4 linked regions of the Homo sapiens genome follow. The protein of the gene in region 4 interacts with the protein of the main gene of each other region in a pairwise test. Each region holds a gene or a part of one and is shown on either strand. Other genes may lie near its edges.

Region 1 (7,508 bases), on a different chromosome or scaffold from region 4:
AATTTTGAAGATTTGGCTCTATATTTTAATTGACCTCATCACCTCGTTAACGTGCCCCCCAACCCCGCACCACCCCAGTCTTACCCCTAGAGCCAGCTGCTCATAACCAATCCTGGCTGTGGAAGGCACAGTGTCCCCAGGGTGAAAAAGAAACTTCTTCAGAGAACCTCCAGCTTTCAGCAGTTGTGTCAAAGCTGACTCCTGGTGGATGTGGACGTTGACGTGGGTGGGCTGGGATGGCCTAGAGGCCATAGCAACTCCATTCACAATCACCGTGTTTTGCGTCATCCTGCCTGCCAGGGAGAAGACATATAGCAGTGAGGTCTGGGAACTAGGCGAGGGAAAAATACACAGCACAGGTGAAAGGAGAGAAATAGTGTCTTTGTCAAGATCCCAGCTGGGCACAATAGCTCACGCCTGTAATCCCAGTGCTTTGGGAGGCTGAGGTGGGTGGATTACCTGAGGTCAGGAGTTCAAGACCAGCCTGGCCAATGTGGCAAAACTCCCTCTCTACTAAAAATACAAAAATCCGCACGGTGGTGTGCACCTGTAGTCCCAGCTACTCAGGAGGCTGAGGCAGGAGAATCACTTCAACCTGGGAGGCTGAGGTTGCAGTGAGCTCAGATCTTGCCACTGCACTCCAGCCTGGGCAACAGAGTGAGACTCCATCTCAAAAAAAACAAAAACAAACAAACAAACAAACAAAAAACAGTGTCTTTGTCAAAATTCAAAGGGGCTTCCCAGTGCAGATATCAATGGCACTGGAAATCAATAGTGATTTTACACATAAAAAAGTTAAGAGATACAAAAGGGTATATATACCTTTAAAACCTTATCGCTCATCTTTTTCCCTCAACCACCTATTTGCCTTGCAGATGCAAAGTAATATTATCAGTCTCTTATAAATCCTACCATGACATTTTTGCATACAAAAGTGTGAAAAAGTATTTCTGCCCCCTTTTCCCACAAATAGCAGCATACTATACACACTGATTTGCATGATGCTGTGATCACACGATCATATGTTTTTAGAATAATCCTACATGAGTCCATAAAAAGTGTCAACCTAAATAACAGAGAGAGGCTCTCCAAAAGAAAATGAGATTGATTCTGGAATAGGGCATTGCAATGAGAATATGCTTACCATAGTAAATCATGTGCACGTTCAGGGAGGTAAAGGAAGACAAAGGTTTTTAAAGGAAAAATGGGGAGACTTACATAATCTCTTTGAGGTGATCATCCTTGGCTACAAGGATCAATAACAAGGGTGACACAAGTCCAGGGTTAGACAGGCAGTTGCTGGTGGATGTCCTCACAGAAGTATTTTTTTGTGTAAGGTTGTCATTTTACAGAGTCCTTTGTGATGACTTTTGTTCCCAGGTTATTTACGCATGAGAACCCTGCCTTGTGGGCCTTCCATTTTCAGATTTTTTTTTTAACTCAAGTGACTCGATTATGATTCTGACAACTTTCACAAAAGCTTCTTCACTCATTTGTGTAACTGCATATATTTTGAGAGTATGAATTCCTCATAATTTATTTAAGTGGTTCCCTATTGGCAGACATTTAGGTTATTTCTAATCCTTTTCCATTACAGACAATGTGGAATTGGCAGGGCACCAGGAATGCGCATTTGCAATTTTAGTAGATATTGTCAGTTATCCTCCACGGAGGTGGTAGCAATTCACATGCAGGAGGCAAACTCTTTTATCTTTTTCCTTTTATATGGGGAAAAATGCATTGATTTTAATCAATTTTATGTAATAAAAATGTCCCATTTTAAATGTATATCTCAACGAGTTTTGACAAATTTACACATTTGTGCAATTACAGCTACAATCAAGATAAAGGACATTCCTACACAGCAATACATTCCCTAAAGCCCCTCCCCAGAAAATACCCCCAACCACTGGCCATGAGCAACCACTGACCTGCTTTCTGTAATGATTTCCATATATTTTTAATCCATGGTTTTCTTTTATTTCATTTTTTTATTATGTATTTATTTATTTATTCATTTTTTGAGATGGAGTCTCGCTCTGTCGCCCAGGCTAGGGTGGCGCGATCTCGGCTCACTGCCAGCTCCACCTCCCGGGTTCACGCCATTCTCCTGCCTCAGCCTCCCGAGTAACTACAGGCGCCCGCCATCAAGCCCAGCTAATTTTTTGTATTTTTAGTAGAGACGGGGTTTCACCGTGTTAGCCAGGATGGTCTCGATCTCCTGACCTCATGATCCGCCCGCCTCGGCCTCCCAAAGTGCTGAGATTACAGGCGTGAGCCACCGCGCCCGGCCAGTTCTCTTTTTTTAGAGAGAGAGATGGGGTGTTGCTTTGTTGCCCAGGGTGGTCTCAAACTCCTGGACTCAAGCAATCCTCCCACCTCAGCCTCCCAAAGTGCTGCAATTACAGGTGTGAGCCACCACGCCTGGCCCATAGTTCTCTTATTATGAGTGAGGTTGGTTGTCTTTTCATATGTTCAGGGCCATTTTTATTTCTTCTTTTGTGAGCTCTCCGTTCACATCCTATGTCCTTGTTTCGTTTTGTTTTGTTTTGCTTTTTTCTATGGAAGTTCTTTATCTATTCACAAAATTACCGTTTGTGATATGAGTTTCAAATGTTTCTTTACAATTTGAAGTTTATTTTTTGACCTTGCTTGTATATTCATACAATCCATGTTCTATTTCATTCTATTTATGGTGTCTAGCTCTTACACTTTTAAAGGACTTCCCCGTTTCGAGATTATAAAATAATCTTCCACATTTTCTTCTAAGTGCCTTTATGCTTTCAGTTTTCACTTTTAAATGCCGACCATCTGGAATTTGGGAGCTGGGTGACCAACCTTCGCCGTTGGGAGACACGGATCCAAGTTCTGTTGCTGTCATTCAGATGTTTAACTTCTGAAAGATACGTTCCATTTGCGGAAAATACATCCTCTTTTTCTCAGTGATTTAAAATTCTCTCCTGAGCAGAAATGAAGTTCCCCTAGGAATGTAGGCCTATTCTAGTCCTTATATTCTGCCCATTGGCATGTCTCATGGGCTAGGCATCATTACCACAATTTTAACATGGAGCTTAATGCTAATTGGGCTGTTTCATGATCCCCTCGTGTGGTTTTTCTTTCAGAATTGTCATGGCCATTTTTGCTAGACTACTTCTTCACATGCACTTTAGAATCAGCTTGCCTGGCTCTAAAATAAATCCTGCATAGGCAATTCTAATGGACATCCTGGCTAAGTATCACAGTTTAAATCAAATATTATTAACAATTCTAATAACACCTCCCATTCGTACTCTACCTACTTTTCAAAGCAGTTTCACTCTTTCACCCACCTGGCCTCCTTGGGGTTAGAAAGGACAGGAGTTAGACAATTCCGCACACGTACAAAGGAGCTTCAGACTGCTTCCAGCCCAGCCCCAGATTCCAGCCAGACCTTCCCTTGACGGCCCAGGCCTCGCCCTGAGGGCACCTCGGGTTCCAGCTACCTCCGGGCCCCCAGGACCACCGCTTCCCCCGCCCCACGCCAACCCCTAGATCTGCCTCGCCCCCGCCTGAAGAGTCGGATCTGAACCAGGCCGGCACCACGGAGATTCCCCTGCGGGCCGCCCGACGCCTGGTAGGTGGTGGGCTCTTCCCGGCTGCCCCGAACACTTTCCTCTGTCCAGCTCTTCCCGTGCCCCGGGGCTGGGGAAAGCGTCCGGCAGCCCCGCCGCTCCCTGGCCCCGTCCCAGGAGCCACCCCACCGTAGGGCTCCAGCCAGGGTCCAGGCGTGCAGGCGGCAGAAGGTGGACGGGACGCGCCAGCCCCAGGCCTCTCCTCCCGCTCTCCAGCCGTTTTTCTGGGGAGAAACACCTGCACCCAGCTGTCCCTCCCTCCTACGTGAGTCCTCCTGGAAACCAGGTTGGAGGAAGAAAGACGTCCTGTGGACAGGACGGGGTGGGGGCATGGCCCTGGGGACTCCTCGTGACAGAGGGTCCTGCGGCAAGAGGGTCTCCCGGGCCGCGGAGGCCCTGCCTCACCTGCAGTCCTCCGGGAGCCCGCGGCCGAGCAGAGCGGACACTAGCTGACCCCGAGCAGGGGAGCGACGGGAGGGCGGAGACGGCAGATGCACGGGTGGGGGCTGCGGCCCCGCCCAGGCTGCGCGGTTTCCCGAAACCAGCTGCGGCCCGGGGGCCCGGCAAAGGGGGTTCCGCCCGGAGGAGCGGACCGGGCGGGAGAAGACCGAGCCCCCGCGCGCCCCCTGCGCTCCCACTCGCGCACACTTGCACGCCGGCCCTGGCCGGGCGGGGCTGGAGGCGAGAACGACCCCACGGGCTTTCCCAGGGCCGTCCGCCCGCGGACCCTCCCAGCTCCCCAGAGCCCAGTGACCCTCGCGCAGCAGGAGAACCCCAGACGGACCCCAGGCCCTGCAGCCTGTCATGAACCCGAGGGGCTGAAGTTCAGCCCCACCCCCGCCTCCCCTCCCCGCCTCCCCCTCCAACTCTCAACCCACTTCTCCAGCCAGCGCCCCAGCCCTCCCGCCGCCCGCTCGCAGGTCCCGAGGAGCGCAGGTGAGGCGGCACCCCACTCCCGGCGGCCCCCGGGCCTCCTTCCGCACGCACCCCGAGCTGCCTCCGCACAGTTGGAGGAGCGTAGGAGGGACCCCCACCCAGGGATGACACTCCAGGAAGGGGACTGCAGAGGAAGCCAGGTGCGGCCCCGGCTTTTGACCTACCTCCGCACCGCAGCGCGGTCCTTCACGGGGCAGGGGCGGCGTGAACCCGTCGGGCGTGAGCAGCAGTCGGTGGAGCGGGAGGTCGGCGGTGGCGGGGATGGGGGTATCCGGAGCGCAGCCGGGGCGCAGCTGCTGGCACAGGAGCTCCACAGGCAGCCAAGGACTCGGTCCTGTCCCAGAGCCTGCGGACTGTGGAGGGGAGGCCGCAGGAAGAGCCCGGGAGGAGGGGGTGAGGGGTCGAGGTGTGGGGCGCTGCTTGACCCAGACGCCAGGGCCCTGGGAGGAGGATGAGGGGGACAGAGCAGATCTTGGGCGAAAGGGGAGGTTCCCGCAGGCTCTGTAGTCGCCGCAGTTCCAGCATGGTCAGCACCCCCTCTGCTACACACATTCCCCTCGTGAGGGGCCAGGGGTGCGGCCCTGTGACCAGGACAGCCATTCATTGGGTGACTTTGAGCCACCACTGGCCCCTGACCTCCCCAACTCCAATGAAATCTGCGAAAATCTTCTGACAGCCGTTCCTCTCTGGTGCTCCCTTCCTCATAGACTGTGTCCCTGACAATGGGAACAGCCGACAGTGATGAGATGGCCCCGGAGGCCCCACAGCACACCCACATCGATGTGCACATCCACCAGGAGTCTGCCCTGGCCAAGCTCCTGCTCACCTGCTGCTCTGCGCTGCGGCCCCGGGCCACCCAGGCCAGGGGCAGCAGCCGGCTGCTGGTGGCCTCGTGGGTGAGTGTGACGGCCTGCCTCGTCGGGCGGCGGGAGGAACTCCCCACCTCCAGCCGCAGCAGCACTCTCTGCCAGCCTCCCTCTGAACAGGACACCGAGCCAGTTATGTCTTCTTACTTAGCGATGTGATTCTCTGGCCTTCTCAGTAAGAGCCTGGGGAGGGGAGGCTCTGGGCTGAAGGGGTGTGGAGGAGCCACTGACCATGCAGAGTCCCAATCAGTGGAGCCCTGAGTCCATCCTTTCCTCTGGGCCAAACTCAGGATGGGCCGGCTCTCCTCTCCTTCCTTTCCCTTCTCTTTTCTCCTCCTCCTGCCTCTTCTTCTTTCTCCTTCTCCTCCTCTTTCTTCTCCTTTTCTCTTCTCTTCTCTTCTCTTCTCTTCTTTCTTTCTCTCTCTCTCTACCTCTCCCTCTCTTTTTGGGGTTTTAGCGGTTAATCCCTGCAGTGGCAGGTCCACCTAGGAGCCGGGATCTTGGGTCCTTTGTCTTTCAGGTGATGCAGATCGTGCTGGGGATCTTGAGTGCAGTCCTAGGAGGATTTTTCTACATCCGCGACTACACCCTCCTCGTCACCTCGGGAGCTGCCATCTGGACAGGGGCTGTGGTGAGTAGAGCAGGACAGTGCTTGACTGCCTGTGAGAGGGGTGGGGCATTGCTCTCCTGATTGCCTTCCTCCAACATGGCGCCACAGAATGCTGGCAGTCGGAGAGATCTGATTATCTAGGACCATTCCCTGCCTGTTCAGATGAGCAAACAGCTGAGGGCGGTGGTGGCATGTCCTATTCACACTGTCTGCTCTCCCATACCCTTCCCAGTGCTGTTCCCACCAGGCTGGCTGCCTCTCCCTGCCTTCAACAGTTAATGTCAACTAAGGATCTAAGGACCTGCTCATCTCCAGATACTTGCATTGAGATGGGGAAGGCAGAGCGTTCCAGATAGTATGTGGTCCCCCAGGAAGCATCACCCCCTGGTTATTCTCATTGTCCTCCACAGGCCCTGTACACAATGGAAACCCAGGAATTGTTGTCAACAGATGGGTGTGTGCAGTTTGCACAGGAGCTGGGTAGGCTGGTCATGGTACCTACACTCTCAGAATAGCACTAAAACACTCATATTTACTGACAGAAGCCGAGAGTAATTACCTTCACCCAGCCTGTGGCAAAATACCCAGCTTAATTACAGAATTAGCCAAACAGGATTCAGGTCCACCTGTCCACTGGGACATACTAGATTTCCTGTTCTTCAAGCCCAGCTGAGTGGATTATTGGGCACTGTTAGGACAGGCTTCTAGACCTAACAGTGCCCACTCTGTATAGACTCACCCTTCATTGAGATCTTCTCCAGCACCCCATGACTTTTATCCACAGGATCCCACCATCCCTAGAACTTTCATAAAGCACTTGGTGTTGTTTAAAAAGGAAGGTTTAGAAGGGAAGAGGGGCTCACACCTGGCTTGACCACAAGCTCTTAGGTGTCACTAAAGCAGGGCCTTTTGCAGCCTCAGGAGTTGGATCCAGGCTCCACCCTCTCAGCAATTATCTTACCATGGATAATAAAGCTTAGCATGAAACCTCCCGCCCAAGCTGTGTGCTGGGGAAGGGCCTGCATGGAGGCTCTCTCGTGGGAGAGGAGTTGCATTTCCTGTACTAAGCCTGCTCCTGGCTCAATCTCTCCCCAGGCTGTGCTGGCTGGAGCTGCTGCCTTCATTTACGAGAAACGGGGTGGTACATACTGGGTAAGTTCAGGGAAGGGCATGGGAGGGGACCAGGTTCAGGCTGGAGGTCACCCCAATCTCCTGCCCTGTTGCAGGCTTCTCTGGGCCTTGCCCTTTTTTCCCCCGACTGGACTCTGAGAGAGACTGAAACACAAAGATTTCTCTCTGCCTCCTCCCTCCCCAGGCCCTGCTGAGGACTCTGCTAACGCTGGCAGCTTTCTCCACAGCCATCGCTGCCCTCAAACTTTGGAATGAAGATTTCCGATATGGCTACTCTTATTACAACAGTGCCTGCCGCATCTCCAGCTCGAGTGACTGGAACACTCCAGCCCCCACTCAGAGTCCAGAAGAAGT
Region 2 (7,129 bases), on a different chromosome or scaffold from region 4:
CCATGCAGCAGCATCCTGCCTGATCTCCTCACACCCACTTAGGCTGTCTCTGTTCCTCCTTGAAACTGCAGCCAGCGTCCTCTTCTAAAGATGCAAATCTGACCATGAACCCTGCCTGAACCTCTTCCCTGGCTTCCTTTTTTTTTTTTTTTTAAGATGGAGTCTTGCTCTATTGCCCAGGCTGAAGTGCAGTGGCGTGATCTTGGCTCACTGCAACCTCCACCTCCCGGGCTCACCTGGCTTCCCATTTTTGTTAGAGTCAAGTCCCAAATCCTGACCACAGCCTACGAAGCCCCGTGTGATGTGGCCCCGGCCGACTTTTGGCCTCCCCCCACATCCCTGTCTTTGCCCATCAGCCTCTGGCCACGTTGGTTTTATTTGCAGTCTTTTACTATGTCAAGCTCTTCCTGCCAGAGCCTTCACACGTGCTGTTCCCTTTGCCCAAAATATTCTTCCTGCTACATGCCACCTGGCTAAGCCCAGCCTATCAATCAGCTCTCAGTGTCAATGTCGCTTTCTCAAGAAGGCTCTCTATGCTCCTCCCCTCTAGATCCGTACTCTGATACACCATTAATTAAGCAACTATCATGTGATCTGTGTGTTCCCTCTCCTTCCCCATTATCCCATTAGCTCCATGAAGACAGGAACCGAATTCGTTTTGTTCATTGATATCTCCCCACACCCAGCACAGTGCTGTCAACCCATTAAGGAACCAGTTCCATGACTGAATAAATGATGGAGAAATTAGGCAGGATGACCCAATGAAAAGCCACCTGAAACAGTGGGTGCTAAGTCCTTTCAACCAAAGATCTAAGAGTAGTTGCTGGGCTCATCTTGAAAGCAAGAGTTAGAAGCAGGGGACAATTGTTGGTTTTCAGGAGTCCCCCTTATCCACGGTTTCACTTTCCATGGTTTCAGTAACCCACGGTCAACCTGGGTCCAAAAACATAATTAAATGGAAAATTCCAGAAATAATTTATAAGTTTTAAATTACTTTTCAATAGTAGCCAATGCCACATCACCACACCTGTCATTCACCTCACTCCAACCCATCATGTAGGCATCTTATTATCTTTTTTTTTTTGAGGTGAGCTCTCACTCTGTTGCTCAGGCTGGAGTGCAGTGGCATGATCATGGCTCACTGCAGCCTCCACCTCTCAGGTGATCCTCCCACCTTAGCCTCCCAAGTAGCTAGAATTATAGCCACATGCCACCACACCCGGCTAATTTTGGTATTTTTTGTAGACACAAGGTCTCCCTATGTTGCCCAGGCTGGTCTTGAACTCCTGGGCTCGAGCGATCCTCTTACCTCGGCCTCCCAAAGTGCTAGGATTACAGATGTCAGCCACTTTGCCTGGCCTCATGTTATCATCTTACATTATCACAAGAAGAGTGAGTACAGTACTATAAGATGTTTTGAGAGAAAGGGACCACATACAAATAGCTCTTATTACAGTATATTGTTGTAACTATTCTATTATTGTTGTTGTTAATCTCTTCCTATTGTTCTTAATTTATAAATTTAACTTTATCATAGATATGCATATATGGGAAAAAACATAGCATATATAGGATTCGGTACTATCTGTGGTTTTAAGGATCCACTGAGGGTCTTGAAATGTATCCCCTTGGACAAGGGGGAACTACTGTATATCTAAGCATGATGGCCCCATACCAGTCCCAGAGCCAGGCCTGGGGAACATCAAGAGAGTCGCTTTGCCTCTGGCCTGAGCCTACCTGGAATCCTGTGGACTAGGTCTGTCTCCTCCACCCGAAGACTTTTGGGATGGAGCCAGCATTGATTTTGGAGTCAGATACATGTGGCTTTCCCACTATTTAGCTATTTGACCTTAGGCGCATTAATCAGAGCCTCCCTGAGCCTCAGATTCCATATCCTGAAATGGGAATAACAAAACCTGCCCCAGGTTGAGTTAAGGACTTAAATACCATCGGGAGCTGGTACTGCACAGAAGCGTGCAGCTCAGCACACAGTCTGGTCCAAAGTGCTGGTCCCTTTTCCTTGGCAAAACTGGCTCATGCCTTTCATTTCACTCTTTTGGAGTCCCAAGCCAGCGTGTAGGACAAGAATATAAGGGAAGGTCTGAGAGGTTGGAGGACACAGTCCACCCCAGACATGGCCCAGGCAAGGCCAGGGCGGCACCAGGAAACCCAAGCTAGTGAGAAGAGTTACTGATCTGTGCCTCTTTGAAGCAGAAGTGAGGTGGGATGGGGAGGTGGGAACAGGTTGAGCCCATTATCCAAACAGAAACGGAGAGTGGTTGCAAAGAGGGAGAGGCCGATAAGTGAAGAGGAAGGAAAGCCGAGGCGTATGGGGGGCTGGGGACAGAAACGGGAATCCAGGTTGTCGGAGGGCAGGGGCTGCAGAAGGAACACGCTGGAAGGAGGGGTGCTGGGGAAATGGGAGAGCTGGCACGGAGGCGGGCCAGGCGGTAAGGGTGGAAAGGAAGAGCAAGTTCCTGGAGAGAGGAAGGAGGGGTTGGAGGGGACGACAGTGACCTGTTGCCTGGAGAGAAGAGAGGGAAAGCGAGGGAAGGGAGGGCAGAAGCTGTCACCTTGGGTCCTGCTAGAGGGCAAGTGAACGGGGCTCGCCCGGGAGTGGAAGGCTGACGGAGGCCTGGGTTGGGGTGGGGGGCCCCGGCCCGGCTGTACCTGCTGCTCCCCGCGGAGCTCTCCCACGTAGTACTGCTCCAGCCAGCGGCGCGCGTTGGCCGAGTGCCTGTGCGGCGGCCCGTCCAGGTCGGCGCTGATGTCCTGGCCCGCCCTGGCCCGCAGCAGCTGCTCGCCCCCCGGGTGGTGCCGCACGAAGCTGGAGAGGTCGTAGAGGCGGGCCCCGCGGCGGACCCAGCACGCGCCGGCCGCCAGGCGCCGCTGGACCTCGGAGGGCGAGAAGGAGGCGGCGGGGGGCGGAGCGGGGGCCATGGCCGGAGACCGCAGCTCCCAGCGCGCAGCCCGGCGTCTGCTCTGCTGCCACCCTGAGCGCCTCTAACATCCCGGGAGCCCCGCGGCCGTTCCGGGCGGGCCGCCACCGCACCTGCTCATTTGCATACCGCGCTCCCATTGGCCGGCCGGGAGCCCCGGCAGAGCCGCGAGGGGCGGGCCCGGCGCCGGGAGCTGCGCGCCAGGTGGCCGCGGACAGGGAGTGCCGCGCCCGCCAGGTGTGTCCCGCGCGGGAGGAGGGTGGGCGGACACAGGCGGAGCGAGTCTCCCCGTCGCGGGTGGTTGTCTGGGCGGACATCCTCGGTGGCCTGATCGCTGCTGGAATAACTTCAACTGCTTCCACGGAGGAGCTGGCCGCATGGGACCCTCTGGCTCCAGGAGGTGCCCGAGAGAGCGAGAGGCGAATGAGGTGCTCGCCTCGGGTGCAAATATTTGTTTGTTTTTAAAATTTCAGTAGCTTTTGGGGTACCAGTGGTTTTTGGTTACATGGAGGAATTGTATAGTGGTAAGTCCTGAGATTTTAGTCCACCTGTCCCCCGAGTAGTGTACATTATACCCAATGTGTAGGGTTTTGTGTGTGTGTGTGTGTTACACCCCCTCCCATTCTCCCTATTGTCCATTATATCACTCTGTATGCCTTTGCGTCCTCATAGCTTAGTTCCTACTTATGAGTGAGAACATACAGTGTTTGGTTTTCCATTCCTGAATCACTTTCACTTAGAATAATGGCCTCCAGCTCCATGCAAGTTGCTGCAAAAGACTTCATTTCGTTCCTTTTTATGGCTGAGTAGTATTCTATCGTGTATATCAACTACATTTTCTTTATCCACTCATTGGTTGATGGTTATTTAAGTTGGTTCCATATCTTTTCGATTGTGAATTGGGCTGCAAAAAACAAACATTCGTGTGCAAGTGTCTTTTTCATATAATGACTCTTTTCCTTTGGGTAGATACCCAGTGGTGGGATTGCTGGACCGAATGGTGAATCTACTTTTTCTCTCCTCCCCTCCCCTCCCCTCCCCTTCCCTTCCTTTCCCTTCCCTTCCCGTGACAAGGTCTCACTCTGTCACCCAGGCTGGAGAGTAGTGGTGCGATCTTGGTTCACTGCAGCCTCGACCTCCCGGGCTCAAGCAATCCTCTTACCTCAGCCTCCCAAGTAGCTGGCACTACAGGCATGCACCACTACGCCTGGCTAATTTTTGTATTTTTTGTAGAGACGAGGTTTCACCATGCTGCCCAGGATGGTCTCAAACTCCTGGGCTCAAGCGATTTGCCTGCCATGGCCTCCCATAGTGCACTTTTTTTTTTTTTTTTTGAGACAGAGTCTCACTCTGTTGCCCAGGCTGAAGTGCAGTGGCACAATCTCAGCTCACTGCTACCTCCGCCTCCCGGGTTCAAGCGATTCTCCTGCCTCAGCCTCCAGAGTAGCTATGACTATAGGCGCGTGCCACCACGCCCGGCTAATTTTTTTGTATTTTTAGTAGAGACGGGGTTTCACCATGTTGGCCAGGTTGGTCTCGAACTCCTGGCCTCTAGTGATCCTCCCGCCGCAGCCTCCCAAAATGCTGGGATTACAGGCGTGAGCCACCGCGCCCAGCCCCAAAGTGTACTTTTAGTTTGTTAAAGAATCTCTGTACTGTTTTCCAAACAAGTTGTACTAATTTACATTCCCACCAGCAGTGCATAGCATAAGCATCCCCCTTTCACTACATACACGCAGACATCTACTGTTTCTTGACTTTTTAATAATGTTCGAGGGCAAAATTTAATGGGGCACCCCAAAACTCAGTCATCACTATATCTAATACCTGAACGTAATATTTAAAAAATTATATTGTTGGCTGGGTGCGGTAACTCACACCTGTAATCCCAGCACTTTGGGAGGCCGAGGTGGGCGAATCACGAGGTCAAGAGATCGAGACCATCTTGGCCAACATAGTGAAACCCCATCTCTACTAAAAATACAAAAATTAGCTGGCTGTGGAGGCACGCATCTGTAGTCCTAGCTACTTGGGAGGCTGAGGCAGGGGAATCGCTTGAATCTGGGAGTTGGAGGTTGCAGTGAGCCGAGAACGCCCCACCACACTCCAGCCTGGCGAGAAAGAGAGACTCTGTCTCAAAAAAAAAATTATTTTGTTGCACAATGTGAATGTTCTTAATGCCACTGAACTGTACACTGAAAATGGTTGGAATGGTAAATTTATATTATGTATATTTTACCGCAATACAAAATATTTAAGAATGTTTTAAAAAATCACATTGTCAAAAGACAGGGGTGAGGGGTGGGGTTGGGGGCGTGGCATTGGCCACCTGTTTTTGTAAATAAAGTTTTATTGGAACCAGGGCCAGGGATTCCTGAGACAGGGATGTGAAAGTGCAGGGTTAGCTCCTGTTTTTATTTAAAATTTTGATATTTTGTCCATCATGGATTTTTTTGCATTAATCTTGAAGTTTTACAATACTGCATTAAAATATTATTTATCTTGGTTACTTTTTTTTGTTTGTTTTTTGGCATGCCTGTAGATTTTGCTCTCAGGGTTAGTGCCTCACTCCCTCACTCTAATCCTGGGCCCTGGGGAAGGACCTGAGGGGAGAACAGAGAACACTGTCTCCATTACAGAAGGGGAAGTAGGGGCCTACAGGAGTAAAGGCTGGGGGTGATGCTGTGTGGAAAGGAGGACTGAATTTGTTCATCACAGTTTTGTTTAGAACAGGAAAAACTTGGTTGGACATGGTGGCTCATGCCTGTAATCCCAACCCTTTGGGAGGCCAAGGCAGGAGGATCGCTTGAGCCCAGGAGTTCAAGACCAGCCTGGGCAACAAAGCAATACCTCGTCTCTACAAAAAAATTTTTTTTTTAAATTGAGGCCAGGCCGGGCGCGGTGGCTCATGCCTGTAGTCCCAGCACTTTGGGAGGCCGAGGTGGGCGGATCACCTGAGGTCGGGAGTTTGAGACCAGCCTGACCAACATGGAGAAACTCTATCTCTACTAAAAATAAAAAATTAGCCAGGCATGGTGGTGCCTGCCTGTAATCTCAGCTACTCAGGAAGGCTGAGGCAGGAGAATCATTTGAACCCGGGAGGCAGAGGTTGCAGTGAGATTGTGCCATTGCACTCCAGCCTGGGCAACAAGAGCGAAACTCTGTCTCAAAAAAAAAAAAAAAAAAAATTGAGGCCAGGTGCGGTGGCTCACACCTGTAATCCTAGCACTTTGGGAGGCCAAGGCAGGCAGATCCCCTGAGGTCAGGAGTTTGAGACCAGCCTGGCGAACATGGTGAAACCCTGTCTCTACTAAAAATACAAGAAAATTAGTCGGGCGCAGTGGCATGCCCCTGTAGTCCCAGCTACTTAGAAGACTGAGGCTGGAGAATCGCTTGAACCCAGGCGTCAGATGTTGCAGTGAGTGGAGATTGCACCACTGCACTCCAGCCTGTGTGACAGAGCGAGGCTCCATCTCAAAAATAATTGGATAAATAAATAATTTAAAAAATTAGCCAGTTGTAGTGATGCAGGCTTATCGTCCCAGCTACTGGGGAGGCTGAGGCCAAAGGATCTCTTGAGTCCAGGAGTTTGAGGCTGCAGTATCCTATGACTGCACCACTGCACTCCAGCCTGGGCAACAGAGTGAGCTCCATCTCTTAAACAGAAAACAAAAAGCAGAAAAGCCACACCCAGCTTTACTTGCTCAGCCACAGGGGATCCCACTTGAACTCATGATTTGTAATCAAATGCTCCTGGTACAGAGGCTAACCCATCCAGCTGGCTTTGTCTCTTTCAGGAAAGATATTTTAAGGATCATCTCCATTTGTGCCCTTCTGGGGCCAGGCATCTGTGCTGGGCCAGTTCAAGTATGGGAAGCCTGGCCCAGATGCCTCAGGGGTCCCCAGGTCAGAAGAGCCGCCCCTCTTCCCTCTCCCTTCTCTTCGGACTGACCCTCAGGGAGTAGGCGAGAGTTTTGCTGTCTGTGGGTCTATGGAGCACCTGTCCGTCAGGCCTAGAGGCCTCACATCAACAGAGTTGTTGCTTTTCTCAAGCGGTGAATGCATAAGTAGTCACCTTTACCCAACTTCCACACCTACTCTGCTGCAAATCCCGTTCATGTGCCAAAGCAGCCAAGCGCACAGTCGCAGGTGTACTCAGGCACTTCTTGCTGACAGTATCTGTGGGCACT
Region 3 (7,308 bases), on a different chromosome or scaffold from region 4:
GTTATCTACTCAAAAGTCCAGCCCTGGAAAGCTGTCCTTCCACCTCAGGAGGAAATACAGCTGCTTGCTGGGTTGTTCACTTCAGCATCTTCAATAAGATGAGCTCTGTATCAAAGAATCCTGAAAAGTTTGAAGAGAGAGGAGAATATATAGAGTAGTAGGAGTGAGCATAGTCCCTGTGAGAAATGACTAGACATGACTAGAGATTCTCTGAAGTTCAGCCCAAGGAAGAGATCAGCCTTTTGCATTGCAAACTTTCCCCCCACACTAGTAAAGGTGAAAGGCCTACGTATCCCAATGACTAAAAGGCCAAATTAGAGCTAGCTTTTTGGCTTATGACTTAATTGTTGTTGGTTTTAGTTGTAGTTTATAAAGAATTTTTCATGGACCTTCTTTTCTCTTAATGCTACCAGTAGGCCTTATCAGTCCTTTATACCAACTGTTCCCAACCTTTTAGCACCAGGGACCACCTGTACCAGTCCGTGGCCCATGTGTTGGGGACCCGTAATTTATACCATGGTGTTAGATTAGTTTGAGATGCTCCCCATAAGAGCAGTTTTTGAAAGGAGGGAAAAAAAATAGAACCAGACTCCCAAGGTTGGCGGAAAAAAAACAATCTCACATATTTGAAAGACTGAGTCCTTTATATCCTCTGCCATCTTTTCGATGTTCCCCTTCCCTTTGCCTTATCAATGTACAAAGCTTTTTACTAGAAAATACAAGGCAAAATGCACATTCTCTAATAAAGCAGAAAATTACTTTGGATAAACTTTCAGCAAAACCATGTAGATTTCTTGGTTTAAAAAAATTGTGTTTGTGCAGGAACTTTTTGTTTATACATCCCCACAAGCTCCAACAAAACTGAAGATGATAATCAAGGTTGCAGATTTTATTAGGGTTCACTTTAGAAAATAAATGTATAGTATAAATGGAAATTAAATATTTCAGGAAATGACTGGCTTTATCCAGAACATACAAGTTTTAATTTTTCAACAGACAATATCAAGATGTTCTTTATTTAGCCCCTACCTTGCATAGTGGGGAAGACACAAGGCCAGTTGAACAGTGAACTGCTGAAAGCAAATTTCACTTTCAACACAGAAAGCACGGGATTATGAAACAGGTTCTTCTTAAGAAATACAGAGGGTTTTAAACTTTTTGGTTGCAAAAAAAAAAAAAAAAAGATGTGTAGTTCATTTCCTCCTCTGTTTTCTGCAGAGCACTAAGAATTGTAACTGAATTTGCTTCACTTTTCTGACTCACTCGTCACTGTGAGGCTGTAATCACTCTGTATTGACAACTGCTTCTTTGGGGCCAGATTGTCAAGTAACATGACAGAGGGGTCTCAGTCTCACTAAGAAAGATTTTCCAGTAAGCAGTGACCGGGAATCATAAGAATCACTGACTTTCATCTTCTCTCTTTTATTTCTTTTATTTTAGTTAGAAATAACTACTTACATAATGTCTTACTACATAATGTCTTGCTACATTATGACAGTGAGTGTGGTCAGAGCAGCCAGGAATGAATGCCAAGGGAAGATGAGGAGTGCAAGAAATTGTCCGTAACTCCCTGAAAATACTGTAACGAATCTGGTCTAATGTGTTTCTCAGAGACCAGAAAACTTATGACTCTCTCTTCACATTCCACTAGTTCAATTTTTTGAGTTCACATTTGTTTCTCATTCTTGGCTTAGCTGATGCATTCCAAGCTTATTCTTCTAAATTATTATGTATTTGCCCCAAGCAAAGAACTTTTAATGCACAGAGTTTATGGGCTATTCTCTATAACTTTAAGGAAAATGAAATTATTTATACCTGGAGTAGGAAATCCTTAAGCAGGATAAAAAAAACCAGTTGAAATCAATAGTTGCCACATGATAATACATTTCTATTCACAAATGGCCTGGTTCCAGGTAAAACTTCAGGATACAGAGAATGCTAGAACGTGCAGCAAAATGAAAGCCCAGACCACTTAAGTAAACTTTCCAGTCTCTTGTTAATAGCTGAGTAAATCTCTGGGCAATCCTCAAGAGGTTCTTAGAAGTCGTCCCTCGTTTATATCTAGAAGGTTCTTGTAATTGTCTTGTAAATCTCCAAAGATATTTAGAGATTACTTTGCTTTAAATAGAGACCAAAAATGACACAAAACTAAAGCTGGACTATTGCCTGGTACACTATTTCTACCTAGTGCAATTTTTAATTTCTTAAAAATCAAGTGATCTGACAGCACAATACTTGTCAAGTACTTGTCATACTGAGATGTTTCTTGCCATCCATATGTATATTTTTGCCAACTATATTTATTGACTATTGATGCTTATTCCAGGTGGCTGAGTCACCCCAATGCTTGGAGGAAGCAAGCAGGGTACAAATCAATTGATCAATGAAAACACTAACGACTGACTTTTAAATCACAAAGCCATTTTAGAGTATAAGTAAATACCTGAAATAAAGAAGGCACTTCACTCACTCCTTCTCTTCCATTCCCATCAACTTTTGTGGGTAAATGCAATAGGTAATTGAAAACTTAATATCACAACCCCTAAATAGTCAAACAGCCTCTAGTAACTTGTTTCTTCCTGGAAAAGATGAATCTGATCCCAATTAACTTAAATAAAACAAACCAAACAAAACTCTCCACTACCAGCCTGGCAGCTAGGGAGGCATTATTGGGTCTGAATGTAGGAAATCAGGAAATACTTACAATCAAGATGAACGTGCCCAAGAACTCAGAGAGGGTTTCTTTCGCTAAGCTGCTCTTCAAGACCAGTCTCTGCTTGAAGCTTTTTCCCTTTTCTGCTCCCTCAGGCTGCATCTTGGGGCTTCTCTGAGGACTCCTGTTTCTACCAATACCTACCTGTTGTGGTCCTCACTTTCACAGCCAGATGAAAATGGACGTTTTGACAATGGCTCACAGATTCCTGGAGATGTCTGGTAAGAGTCTCTGACTGTACAAATGCCGTTCCAATTAGAGGCTGTGGCTTAATCGTCTTCTGGTGGAACTGTCATTCCCTGTTCGCTGCTATTTGTTTGAATCTGCGACTTAGAACCCGAAATCCCCAAAACAATCCCTTTTGTGCCTGACAGATTAATCATTACCTTTATTCTCAAGGTACTTTTTTCTCTGTTGGTTTTTTTCAAGAGATGAGAAAAGAGATGTGCCAGTTGTGTTGCCAAATCACAGTGACGGGCCCTGGTCCAGAAAAGATTTTCATGTTACACAATTGCAGGCTTCTGATTTTTTTTTCTTCTCATTCAGAAGTGGGTGGTTGGGGTGTAGTTTGGAACTGTCAAATCAGGTGTAGATATATCCAATGTTAACATTCTTTTCTGAAAAAGGTTTTTATGCAAAATGAAGAATTTGAAGAAAATATAGATTTATCATCCTAGAAGATTAATCACTCTTGTTTTCTTCTGGTATCATTTCAGTGGCTTCATGATACCACTCTGAGGTTAGTAAGAACCACATAGGCCATCCTAGAGATGGAGAAATTAACATACAGAGAAACCATTGCAAGCTTCACACTGCAAGTCTGTAGGACAGATGGAGTCACCTCTTCGGTTATGAAACTGGGCTTCACTTGCTGAAGATACTTTAGGATCCAAGAATCAGAAAGATGGAGGAGTCACCTTTTTGGTGACTTCTGAAGTTTCTTCTGAAGAAACATTCCAGTTTGGGTTTCTTCTGAAGAAGCATTCCAGTTTGAAAATAGTCACTCTTCTTCATTCACCATGAAATATTTAGACATAATACATAGGAAATAAACAATAGCAGCTTGAAATTCTTTACTGCATGGAGATGACTGAGCCGGAAAGAGATCAATTAGCGTGTATGTCATTCTAATCAAACGAGAAAGGGAGCCAGTACACCTAACCGAGGCTCCTAGGTTATACCCTTTCAATTTGATAAATTGACATCCTTGCTGGCAAGAAACTGTGTTTGGGAGTAGCTCCTTGTCCTGCCAAATATTCAAGCCTTGTTTTTCAAAACTGGCTTATCTGAAGAAATAGAATATAGCATTAGTTTCTAAATAGCAAGGCAGGCCTAGTTTCTGATTACCAATGTGGACTCATGGAATTAGTATCCATGCTGTGTGGTTCCTTCCAGTCCTCCCACAGGGAAGCCAGCTCTGCATCAGGCCCTCCCCTAGCTTTGCAAAAAGGGAGGGAGGAGAGGACATGGAGAAAGCAGCTGGTGAGAGGCCAAAGGCAGAAGGAGACTTCTCATCTGTAGGTGACATTTAGAATTTAGACTTTAAAAAGTTATAACCTGCCTGAGGCCACACTACTGCAGAACCAGGACAAAACCTCAGCACTTTGGCTTTAATTCCTGATGAAGTTATCATAAATACCATTGTCTAGAAGAGTTACCTATGACCACACCATTACCAAGTCCCAGTGGATGGACCAGAGAAACAGGACTTTCTTACTGTGACTACAGCTAATAACATGCAAGAGCGTTCTCTGGTCTTCCCATTCACTCATCTAACAACTATTTACTGCACACTCATTATGTGCCAAGCACTGCACTTAACAAGAGCACATAGGGTTCTTGTCCTTCACAGAGCCTAGAGTCTAGTGAAGCAGACAGATGTAAGTGAAATAATCCCACACACATAAATACAAAATCACAACTGAGATGTATGCTGCAAAGATGGGGGCCATATTTCCATAAGCAAATATAGCAAAAGGATTTGACTTTGTTGGAGAGATCTCTGATGGCTTCTCCAAGGAAGTCATGTGTGGACTGAGATCAGAAAGAAGCATGGGATTAACTACATGAAGTGGGGAAGAAAGTGCATGTACAAAGTCCTTGGTGGCTTTGGGGGTAAGGGGTAGGGGACAGCATGATGCCTCTCAAAGAATGAGAGAAATTTACTGTGGTTGGCCCCAGAGAGAGTGAAGGAGTACAGCATGCAAAATGAGCCCTGAGGTGTGGGCAAGGGTCAGACCTTACTAGGCCTTGTAAGTGGTAGTTAGGGCTAAAAGTGTAAGTCATTAAGGTGGTTTAAGCAGAAATACGACATGATCAGATTAGAGTTTTGAAAAGATCCTCCGAGCTGTGAGGTGGAGAGGGGATTGGAGGGGGCTTGGAATGGTCATAGGCAGATACATTTGGGGGTATTACAGAATTCCAGAATTGGGTGGTAGTTTGACAGTGGAGAAATGGAGGGATCCAAGAGTTCTTTATATCTTAAAATTGGAAGAATTTCATGGATTAGATGTGGGAGATGAGGAAAAGAGACTGAGAAAAGTTGGTTCCTGAGTTCCTAACTTGCTGGGGAAGGTGCTGCTGAGCCCTGGGAGAGGAAATCCTGGAAGAGGACCAGAAGTGCAGTGGAAGATCATTAATTCTGCTTGTGCAAAACTGAGCCTCAGAGGCTTCTGAGCGATGTAAGTTAGGAAGTGATATGGGTCCAGATGAGGAAGGAATGTCTGTGTGCTCATAGTGGTGATAACTGGAGCCTGGAGTAAAGAGGCTCCCTAGGGAGAGAGTTTGAAGAGAACTGAGAGTTTGATATGGAACATTTCATGCTTAGGTAGAGGAGGATGGAATCTTTATTATTTCTGTTTTACTACCTTCAATTGACAGTCACACTTCTCACCTCCATCACCACGAACAGCTCATCATCAAACATAGCTTACTCATACAAAATATTCACTGAACAAAATGTTCCAGCCACCTAACAAAATGTTCAAAAGCATCTTAAGAAGGTAAGCAATGAATAGTATTCCTCCTTTATTCCATCTGGGAGGGAGCCTTTGTCAAAATACCCTGACTCCAAAGTTCTAACTGGAAGCATGAGGAAGCTTTTAAATTTCATTCACTCAGAAAAAGTTTTCATTGAATATGTACCATGTGTCAGGCACAGCATTAAGCAGTGGGAATTTAAAAATGAAAAAACAAAACCAGATCTCTATTATTAAGGAATTAATAGTCTAAGTGACTAAGATGTCTGAATGAATACACCATAGAGTAGAATAGAGTTGTAAGCAAGATACTGAACCAAAATTTCTGCTGTCACCATAGGAACATCTGAGAGCTAACTCTGCATTTGCCAACATGCAGAGGAAAGAATGAGTATGGTGACTGCTGTCAATGGTTCTAAAGCTGATGAGCTTTCCTGGATGCACTGCCATACTGATTCTCCAGGGCTGGCATATGCTGTTCTTTTATTAATAGTTCCCTTGGCTCTGCCCCTTCCTATCTTCTCTTCTCCCCAACATTCTATTCTGTGTTTATCTACTTTTGCCTTGGGTAACCATCTTTGCCTACACTCACGCAATCCCAAGATAGAAGCCTGGTGTTTATAAGTATAACCGCCTCTCACACCCTGACCTCACTTCCCCTACACCTCCTAATTCTAAATTCCAGTCCCTCAAAGCCTTCCTTTCCACCTAATTATTACCTCATGATTACCCACGTTAATGAAGCGCTTCCCAGCATCTCAGGTTCCATTGACCCAGTGATTTTCTTCTACACCCATGTTGCCAAAGCCCAACTCTGGGTATGCCTAACCATCCATTTTTTTTTTCTCAGACTTTCTCTTCCCTGGCTGCTAAATGTTGCTGAAGAAAATCATAAATGTATTGATTAACGCTATTGCAGATAATTGTGATATAGCATCAGCAGTGGCCCCATGTTCTTAGTTAACCTTTTATTTCCAAGTTTCCAGATTTTAGCATGCACTAAAATCAGCTTCCCTCAGAGACTGATTCTGTAGATCTGGGATGGAGCCCAGGAATCTCACAAGCATACTTGATAATTCAGAGCCGATTCTTTGCCCAGCAGCAACCACATACTCTTCTATGCCTCCAGCTCACAGTCCCAACCCTCCCACTCAGATGATTACTTTTTTCTCCAAATCCACTGGGAAAGCATAGGTTTCATTGACTGTAAGTCCTTTTATGCCCTTACTCCTAAAAAAATTGCCTTAGTTTTATATATGTTATCCTCTTTTCCTTTCCTTATTCCTACCGTTTGGCCCATGTTAATGTTCTATTCCAGCCCCTCTGGAACCCAGGCCAATCAACATTCCCTTCACTCTCAGTCTCTTTCCAACACTGGCTTTCTCCCACCACCCCAGGACCAAAACAAACACAGGTCTCTCTAATACTGAAAAACATTCCTCAAAGTTGTTTCACTCCAAATTACCATTTTGTCTGTTAATATCTCCTTCACTTTTTTCTTTTCCACCTGAGGAAGAAATAACCTTTTTCCCATGAGTGTAAAATCATATTACACTGAAAAAAATTAGAAGTATTTAAATTAAAATGTTAAAATTTCTTATAATCCCTGTCGTCAGA
Region 4 (7,354 bases):
TTTCTGGGTGATAAATTACTGCACGGGGTAGAGGCGAATGAAGGGGATGTAGGAGATAGGGGAGATTAACAAATCCCCTTTCCTTTTGCTTACTTATAGTTTCCAGTATTTCTAACATAATGGTCTTTGAATAAGAATTTTAAGTTATATAAGGGTATTAATTAAAACTGAAAAATCCATGAAATTTGGGGCAAGATACTATTTTAGATGAACTTTTCATTGGGATCTGCGGATAACCTAAGTATTCATCTATGTCTCTCACATACAACCTAAAATTATCCTAGATCCCTGCCTCAAATCACAATGGATCAAAACTTAGTTTCTCTCTTCTTTAGCCCCCCTGCAGACCTTACAGGTTATGCCACTACGATGTCAGCACCCAGTATAAGGAAATCTCACTACCAGTTTTTGCCAGTTTCCCAGTGACGCCAACCCACCCTCTGGGATAGTGAGATAAAGAGAGAGAAATGAATTGTTTTTAAAGCACTGATTTTGCACTCAGAGAAGTGACAAAAACAAACAAACAAACAAACTTGGCTGGACACGGCGGCTCACGCCTGTAAGTAATCCCAGCACTTTGGGAGACCAAGGCAGGTGGATCACCTGAGGTTAGGAGTTTGAGACCAGCCTGGCTAACACGGCGAAACCCCATCTCTATTAAAAAACAAAAATTACCCAGGCATGGTGGTGTGCACCTATAATCCCAGCTACCCGGGAGGCTGAGGCAGGAGAATCGCTTGAACCCGGGAGGCAAAGGTTGCAATGAGCTGAGATTGTGCCATTGCACTCCAGCCTGGGAGACAAGAGCTAAACTCCATCTCAAAAACAAACAAACAAAACAAAACAAAACGAAACAAAAAAAACTAAACCCGGACACTTTTTCTATACCACCATTTCAAAGCTATAAACTCTCCATAATTCTCACACTAAGAAGTCCATAAGGAATCATAAAAGTCCCAAAAATAAAATGTCATTTTGGTAAACATGCATTTAGCAACGCTATTCTTCCCTGCTCAGTAAAACAGCACAGAAAGATCTCAGGAGGAGAGGAAACAGCTCTAAAGCAGGCATACCTCTCTGTCCAACAAAAGAACTTAAATTCATACTGGTTCAATCCAACAAGCATTTGTTAAGCACATACTATATTCAGAGCACCATGCTAGGTGTTTATTCATCTCTAAACAAAGAAGACATGATTATCTGCCTGTCGAGGAACCATAACTCTAATCTGGAAGACAAACACTCAGATAAACTAGTATATGGCAGACCCTGATAAAACGTAATAATAGAGGTTTCAAAACTGCTCTGGTAGTACGGGAAGGGAGGGATTAAAACTGCAAGAATTATGAAAAAGAAAGCCAGGAGAGGTGACCTGTGCTCCTAGTCCTAGCTACTCCAGAGGCTGAAGCAAGAGGATCACTTGAAGTGGGAGTTCCAGGCTACAGTGAGCTATGATTATGCCTGTAAATAGCCACTGCACTCCGGTCTGAGGAACATAGCAAGACCTTGTCTCATTTAAAAAAAATAATAATAATTTTGAAAAAGATTCTTCAATAATTTAAGTTCTACATATACTGTATTGATGTATTTAATTCAGCTATTTATTCATCCTGATCATTCATCCAAAATAAAAGGTGGTTGGCCAGGCGCGGTGGCTCACGCCTGGAATCCCAGCACTTCGGGAGGCCAAGGCGGGTGGATCACCACAGGTCAGGAGTTCAAGGCCAGCCTGGCCAACATGGAGAACCCCGTCTCTACTAAAAATACAAAAATTAGCCGGGCGTGGTGGCGTGCGCCTGTAATCCCAGCTACTCAGGAGGCTGAGGCAGGAGAATCGCTTGAACCCAGGAGGCAGAGGTGGCGGTGAGCCGAGATCATGCCACTGCACCCCAGTCTGGGCAACAGAGTGAGACTCCGTCTCCAAAAAAACAAAACAAAACAAAACAAAATAAAAGGTGGCAAAACGCTCAGCTACCAAAAGCAAGCATCAGAGGTGAAATCTACACACTGGGATCCTTTGGACTAAAAAAACGGAGACAAATGCCTTGGAACCAGGAGGATGTCTGCAAAAGGCTCACCAACATCAGAAGGTCTGTGCTAGGCATCTTCCTCTTCCAGCCTCCTCTCCGCGCTCCCCTTTTTCAGACTCTGTAAAAGGGAACCAGGTTTGTTTACTTCTAGAGCTTTAAACTGTCTCGCCAGCCCGCCTAGATTCGCCAGAGCAGCCAAGTTATGGTTCTCTCCCTCCTTTGAAGGCTCAGATTTCATTCCCAGATATCACAGTCCACCCCTAGCACCCCAGACCAGCGAATCAAAATCCTGCTGCAACTAGGTTTCCCTCCCACAGCTGATGAAACTAATCCAGACCCAGACTCCCACAAAGCATTCCACCCAGGTGGAAACTAGGGGAAACGCCCCGTCTGCGCGCGATCGGGGTGGGGAGCCCAGCCCAGGCCACCTAACCCGGGCTGAAGGTGCCGAGGCTACCAGGGTCCTGCCTCCTCCGCACTCCCTTCAGAATCAGCACGGCCTCGCTCTCGTTGTCACCCCTCCCGTCGGAGGACCAGCAAATCCTGGCCGCCCATGCCTACCCCGCGGCAGGCGTGGGCTCCAGACCCGCCCCACCGCGGCCCCGCGCCCGCCCGCCGTCCACTTGCTTGGACCTCAGCGGCTGGTGCCCACGCCTTCAGCCCGCCCCCGCCCCCGCCCCGGCCGCAGCCGCCCCGCCGCCTCTGCCCGCCCTCGGCCCACCCGGCCCCTGTCCTCTCCTCACCCCGCGGCGCCTCCGTCCCGACCCTCACCGCCCCCCGGAGCCCGCGGCGGCCCCTCCACCTCCTCACGCCGGAACCAGCTTCCAGTCTCCTTCCCTCGAGCACCCGGCCGGCTCCACCTCCTGCGTCTCCCTCAGCACGCGACGGACTCGCAGGCCGCGAGACCCAGGCTCCCCTGTTGCCGCCGCCGCCGCCGAGATTGGAGGCCCGGCAGCCGCCGGCCTCGCCCCTCCCGGAAATGGCTCCGGGGGCACCGGCCCGGCTCCCGGACCCTGGCGTGCGCGGCCCCGCTGCTACCAGCCGCGCGCACGCCCAGACCCGGGCCCCACGGCCTGTGCGCGCCGCCTACCGGCCAGGCAGCGGGCTGCACCCAGACCCTCCAGTGAATGTCTCAACCAGGCCGTCCTGGGGCGGCTGTGGTATCCCGACGGTCACCAACTTCTCTTCCAAACTGCCTTGGACAAAAAACTTTCTTGTCACATTTGGTCACTTGGAGCCTCCTGAGAGAGTAGGTCTGCAGGGCATTGTACAAACTAATCCAAAACAGCCACAGAGTTGGGTCTCTTTCCTGGGCCAGGGACTTCATTTTTCCATCGAGGTCAGTGGTGCCTGAAGAAAAGCAACAAGGAAACTTATTTAATGGAAATATCATCCTCATCCTCCCCTCCACCACTGCCCCCCCCCACCCCAAAAATAAAATGGAGAGCAGAGGCTACTCTGCCATCACTACTTTCATGAGCAGTGCTGGGAATCACCTTATACACAAGTGCAAGGGCCCACTGGGATCACAAAGGTCGCCTTCATTTCCAGATGAAAAAACTAAGTCTCAGCTGGGTGTAGTGGCTTACATCGGTAATCCCGGCACTTGGGGATGCTGAGGCGGGAGGGTTGTCTGAGCCCAGGAGCTCTAGATCAGCCTGAGCAACATAGTGAGACCCCCAACTCCAAAAAGAAAAAGAAAAAACTAAGTCTCACATAGGTTTCCCATGACTTGTCCAGGTTGTCATAACATTGCTTTAGTGGTAGCAGAAGGCAGTGCAGTTACATGGAACCAACTGGTCAGTGACCTGCATTCAAGATTTTTTTTCAATAGATTTTAAAATGACACCTAGATAGACTCTTGAAATCTCTCAAACAAAAATGACACTAATGAGGGTACCCAATTCCATCCCCTTGGAAAATGTTGCCATGACACTAAAATTAGGGCATCATCACTACCGTCATTATCCACATGTAGTGCTTTCAGGATGAAATGTACTATCACAGCTGCCCTCCTCTGCATACCCCATCGGCACTTCCCACTTCCCCAGCCATAATGGTTAAGGCCCTGAAAGACTATGAACAGGTTATCTTTAGGCCTCCTCACCCCCATTCCGTCAGAACTCCCAGACATTTCTACCATCCAGAGCCCCTGACTCAGGCATGAACACCCCCATACCCTTAGCCCCCTCACTACTATTCCCCAGCAGACATGCATTCTCAGTGTTTGAGGGTCAGAAAATGTTCTGGGGCCTCCTGCCAATGCCTACTCATCAAGAGTTGCTTTAGGGTTTCAGGTATGCCTTCCCATTCTCCATCTCCTACCCTTCTGCTTTAATTCTTCATCAGATCCCCCAGGAACTGCACACCTCCTCTCCATCTCCTTGTTAGTTACCACCCCCACATCCTTTAATCTAGAATCTGTGCACCCAGATGACTAGAGGGCAGGGTCACGTCTGATTCCTCCCTACACCCTAACACACAGTATGCAGTCTGCTCATTCTTCCCAGATGCTCAAACCAATGCAATCATATCGACTGATCCTTGCTTTGCCAAGAACTATGCTAGGCACCTTTACATACAAGCCTTATTTATGGCCTGACTTGCCCAGATCAGGTGACTCTTATCATCCCTCAACCTGTAAACAAGGACACCAAGACCAAAGAAGGAAATGATCCTCCCAAAGACACACAGGCAGGATGGGGTGGAGTTTGTGTGGGAGTTTGGAGGGGAAGCCAAGGGTTCAGAATTTGTAGCGGGGACCTCGAATATCCTTTTTGGTTAATTAGAATCAAAAAATGGTAGGGCTAGAGGGGTCTCCAGCTATTCGCCAGCTCCACCCCAGAGAATACACAAATACACGTGAAGAAACTGAGGTCCAGAGAGAGATGCGACTCCTAGCAGTTCCTGGCAGAGCCCAGCCTAGAACATGGGTCTGGGTTTGCAACTCTCTGAGCCGATGAAGCCCTGTGTGTGTGTGTGTGTGTGTGTGTGTGTGTGTGTGTGTGTGTGTGAGAGAGAGAGAGAGAGAGAAAGAGAGAGAGAAAGACTTCAGACCACCCTGCTCTCCTACCCCACACTCCCTCTGACAGCAGAATGACGTTAGCAGGCACATAGCTGGCTGGTCAGAGGCAGAGGAGGGCTATCTGGAACTTCCATTCTGAAAGTGTGGTTTCCCTGAGAGCAGCATTGGCTTTACCTGAGAGCTTGTTATAAATACAGGTTCTTGGGGCCCCACTCCAGACCTCCTGAATCAGAATCTACAGCTTAACAAGGTCCCCAGATGATCTTAATGCACAAGAAAGTAAAAAGCACTTCCCTAGACACTCTGTTTGCAGAGAAAGCACAATTTTTGTTTGCTTATTTAGAAACATGGTCTCAATAATGTTGCCCAGGCTGGAGTGTAGTGGCTATTTACAGCCATTATCATAGCTCACTACAGCCTCAAACTCCTGGGCTCGAGCGATCCTCCTGTCTCAGCCTCCTGAGTAGCTGTGTCTACAGACACATGGCACTTTGCCCGGATAGAAGGCACGATAGTTGTATTAAGCGTGTGGGTTGTTTGGGATGGCTTAAGGAGGCTGATGAAGAACGTGTTTGTTTGGGGCTGGGGAGGGAACCAATGCTCCCCAGTTGTCCTTTGGTACCATCATGGTGCCTTCCAGGATGACAAAAGATTGTCATTCAGGTGTCAGTGAGGCACTGAAATTCCCGCAGATGACGGAAGGCTTGGGACGGGGGAGGGAGGTGTGGAGCAAGATGGTCTGGGATTTTTTCCCTCTGTGGCTTCTTTAATTTAGGCTAGGAGGATCTCCCTGCAGTGCTTGTGCCTGCCATCATTTAAACAATTCATGCCAGCAAATCTGGTTCTGCTTAAAATGGCAGCCATCCATGGCCAAGTTAATGACAGCCTCCCACTCATGCATGAGTGCACACTCCCACTCTAAAAAGCAGGCGCACACACTCTCCTGCCTCCATTCTTGCTCCTGACACCCCTTGCTCAGCCGGGGACCTTCTTGAGAAGCTCACCTCAGGACAGGGGTGTGGGCAGATCTTAGGAGGGTTGCAGCCTCTAGGCCCATCCTGGAAAGGAATGGCCCACAGGAAACCAACAAACAGTTCCTAGAGCCCAGAATGCCCAAGAAGAGGCAGGAAACCAGCACATAGCTCCAGCAGCAGGCTCAGCTGATCACAGCAGAGCTGGCCACCAGGGGAGGAGAGGCCAAGGGCCAGACAGACATGGGAGCCCCCACAGCAGGGACCAAATGCCCCGACATTGCCAACTGGAGTGAGCAAGGGGCAGCAAGTCACCGAGTTATCATGGGCCCCCTGACCTCACTCAGGTACATACCCCAGTTGCCAGTTTGATCAAAGTCAGAGTGGCCAAGCCCTCAGAGAGCCAAGAGTTATTTCCCAAGGAAACCTCATCTTTCGTAAAGAAGCCCACTGATAGGGTTTGACTCTGTGTCCCCACCCAAATCTCATCTCAAATCATAATTCCCATGTGTCGAGGGAGGGAGGGTGATTGGATCATGGGGGTGGTTTCCCCCATGCTGTTCTCATGGCACTGAGTGATTCTCATGAGATTTGATGGTTTTATGAGTGTCTGGAAGTTCTTCCTTCGTTCTTCTCTCTGCTGCTGCCTTGTGAAGAAGGGGCTTACTTCCCCTTCACCATCCGCCATGATTGTAAGTCTTCTGAGCCCTCCCCAAGCCGTGTGGAACTGTGAGTCAGTTAAACCTCTTTCCTTTATAAATGCCCCAGTCTCAGGGAAGTTCTTAATAGCAGTGTGAAACGGACTAATACACCCACCATTGTTGCTATCCAGGCTGCACAGTCACTCCTAGCAAAACATTAAAAACTGAGAGCAGCTGTTTCTCAAACACTGAATAAATATAAACTTCCTTTGACAAAATAGCTTTGAAGGCAGGGAGACAGGTCTCTACCCAGGAATCATTGTGTGGCCTCAAAATAGCTTTGAAGGCAGGGAGACAGCTTTCTACCCAGGAATCATTGTGTGGCCTCCAGCAAGTTGTTGTAACTGTCCAAGCCTGGGCTTCCTCCTTTGTAAAGCAAGAATTAACAACTACCCTAAGACTGCTGTGGCAATTGTAAGAGATGTATGTGTGTGCCCATCACATATGAGGCCTGATCCACCATAAGCACTCAATAATTATTACTATTATTATTATTATTAATTTATAAAGACAATGCCTCACTATGTTGCCTAGGCTGCTCCTGGGCTCCAGTGATTCTCCCACCTTAGCCTCCCAAAGTGCTGGGATTACAGGTGTGAGCCACCGCGCCCGGCCAAGAATTATTGG

Evidence for each region.
Region 1: the proteins of SGPL1 (region 4) and TMEM176A interact in binary tests that used the Homo sapiens proteins (3 or more experiments, as listed by UniProt).
Region 2: the proteins of SGPL1 (region 4) and FA2H interact in binary tests that used the Homo sapiens proteins (3 or more experiments, as listed by UniProt).
Region 3: the proteins of SGPL1 (region 4) and AQP9 interact in binary tests that used the Homo sapiens proteins (3 or more experiments, as listed by UniProt).

What each region holds. Positions count from the first base shown.
Region 1 is NC_000007.14:150,796,282-150,803,789, forward strand, and holds the start of TMEM176A (transmembrane protein 176A), read left to right. Parts: upstream 1-4,487; 5' UTR 4,488-4,547; exon of another isoform or gene 4,548-4,651; coding exon of another isoform or gene 4,652-4,687; intron 4,688-4,711; exon of another isoform or gene 4,712-5,079; intron 5,080-5,254; coding exon of another isoform or gene 5,255-5,269; coding exon 5,270-5,443; intron 5,444-5,933; coding exon 5,934-6,044; intron 6,045-6,433; coding exon of another isoform or gene 6,434-6,538; exon of another isoform or gene 6,539-7,118; coding exon 7,119-7,175; intron 7,176-7,338; coding exon 7,339-7,508. Other genes in the region: TMEM176B (transmembrane protein 176B), read right to left, coding at 85-293, 3,330-3,337, 3,741-3,943.
Region 2 is NC_000016.10:74,771,816-74,778,944, forward strand, and holds the start of FA2H (fatty acid 2-hydroxylase), read right to left. Parts: upstream 3,006-7,129; 5' UTR 2,941-3,005; coding exon 2,671-2,940; intron 1-2,670. UniProt on the Homo sapiens protein: Catalyzes the hydroxylation of free fatty acids at the C-2 position to produce 2-hydroxy fatty acids, which are building blocks of sphingolipids and glycosphingolipids common in neural tissue and epidermis.
Region 3 is NC_000015.10:58,134,073-58,141,380, reverse strand, and holds the start of AQP9 (aquaporin-9), read right to left. Parts: upstream 3,001-7,308; 5' UTR 2,816-3,000; coding exon 2,705-2,815; intron 1-2,704. UniProt on the Homo sapiens protein: Aquaglyceroporins form homotetrameric transmembrane channels, with each monomer independently mediating glycerol and water transport across the plasma membrane along their osmotic gradient.
Region 4 is NC_000010.11:70,811,605-70,818,958, reverse strand, and holds the start of SGPL1 (sphingosine-1-phosphate lyase 1), read right to left. Parts: upstream 3,012-7,354; 5' UTR 2,833-3,011; exon of another isoform or gene 2,774-2,832; intron 2,677-2,773; exon of another isoform or gene 2,464-2,676; intron 2,149-2,463; 5' UTR 2,106-2,148; coding exon 2,079-2,105; intron 1-2,078. UniProt on the Homo sapiens protein: Cleaves phosphorylated sphingoid bases (PSBs), such as sphingosine-1-phosphate, into fatty aldehydes and phosphoethanolamine. Elevates stress-induced ceramide production and apoptosis.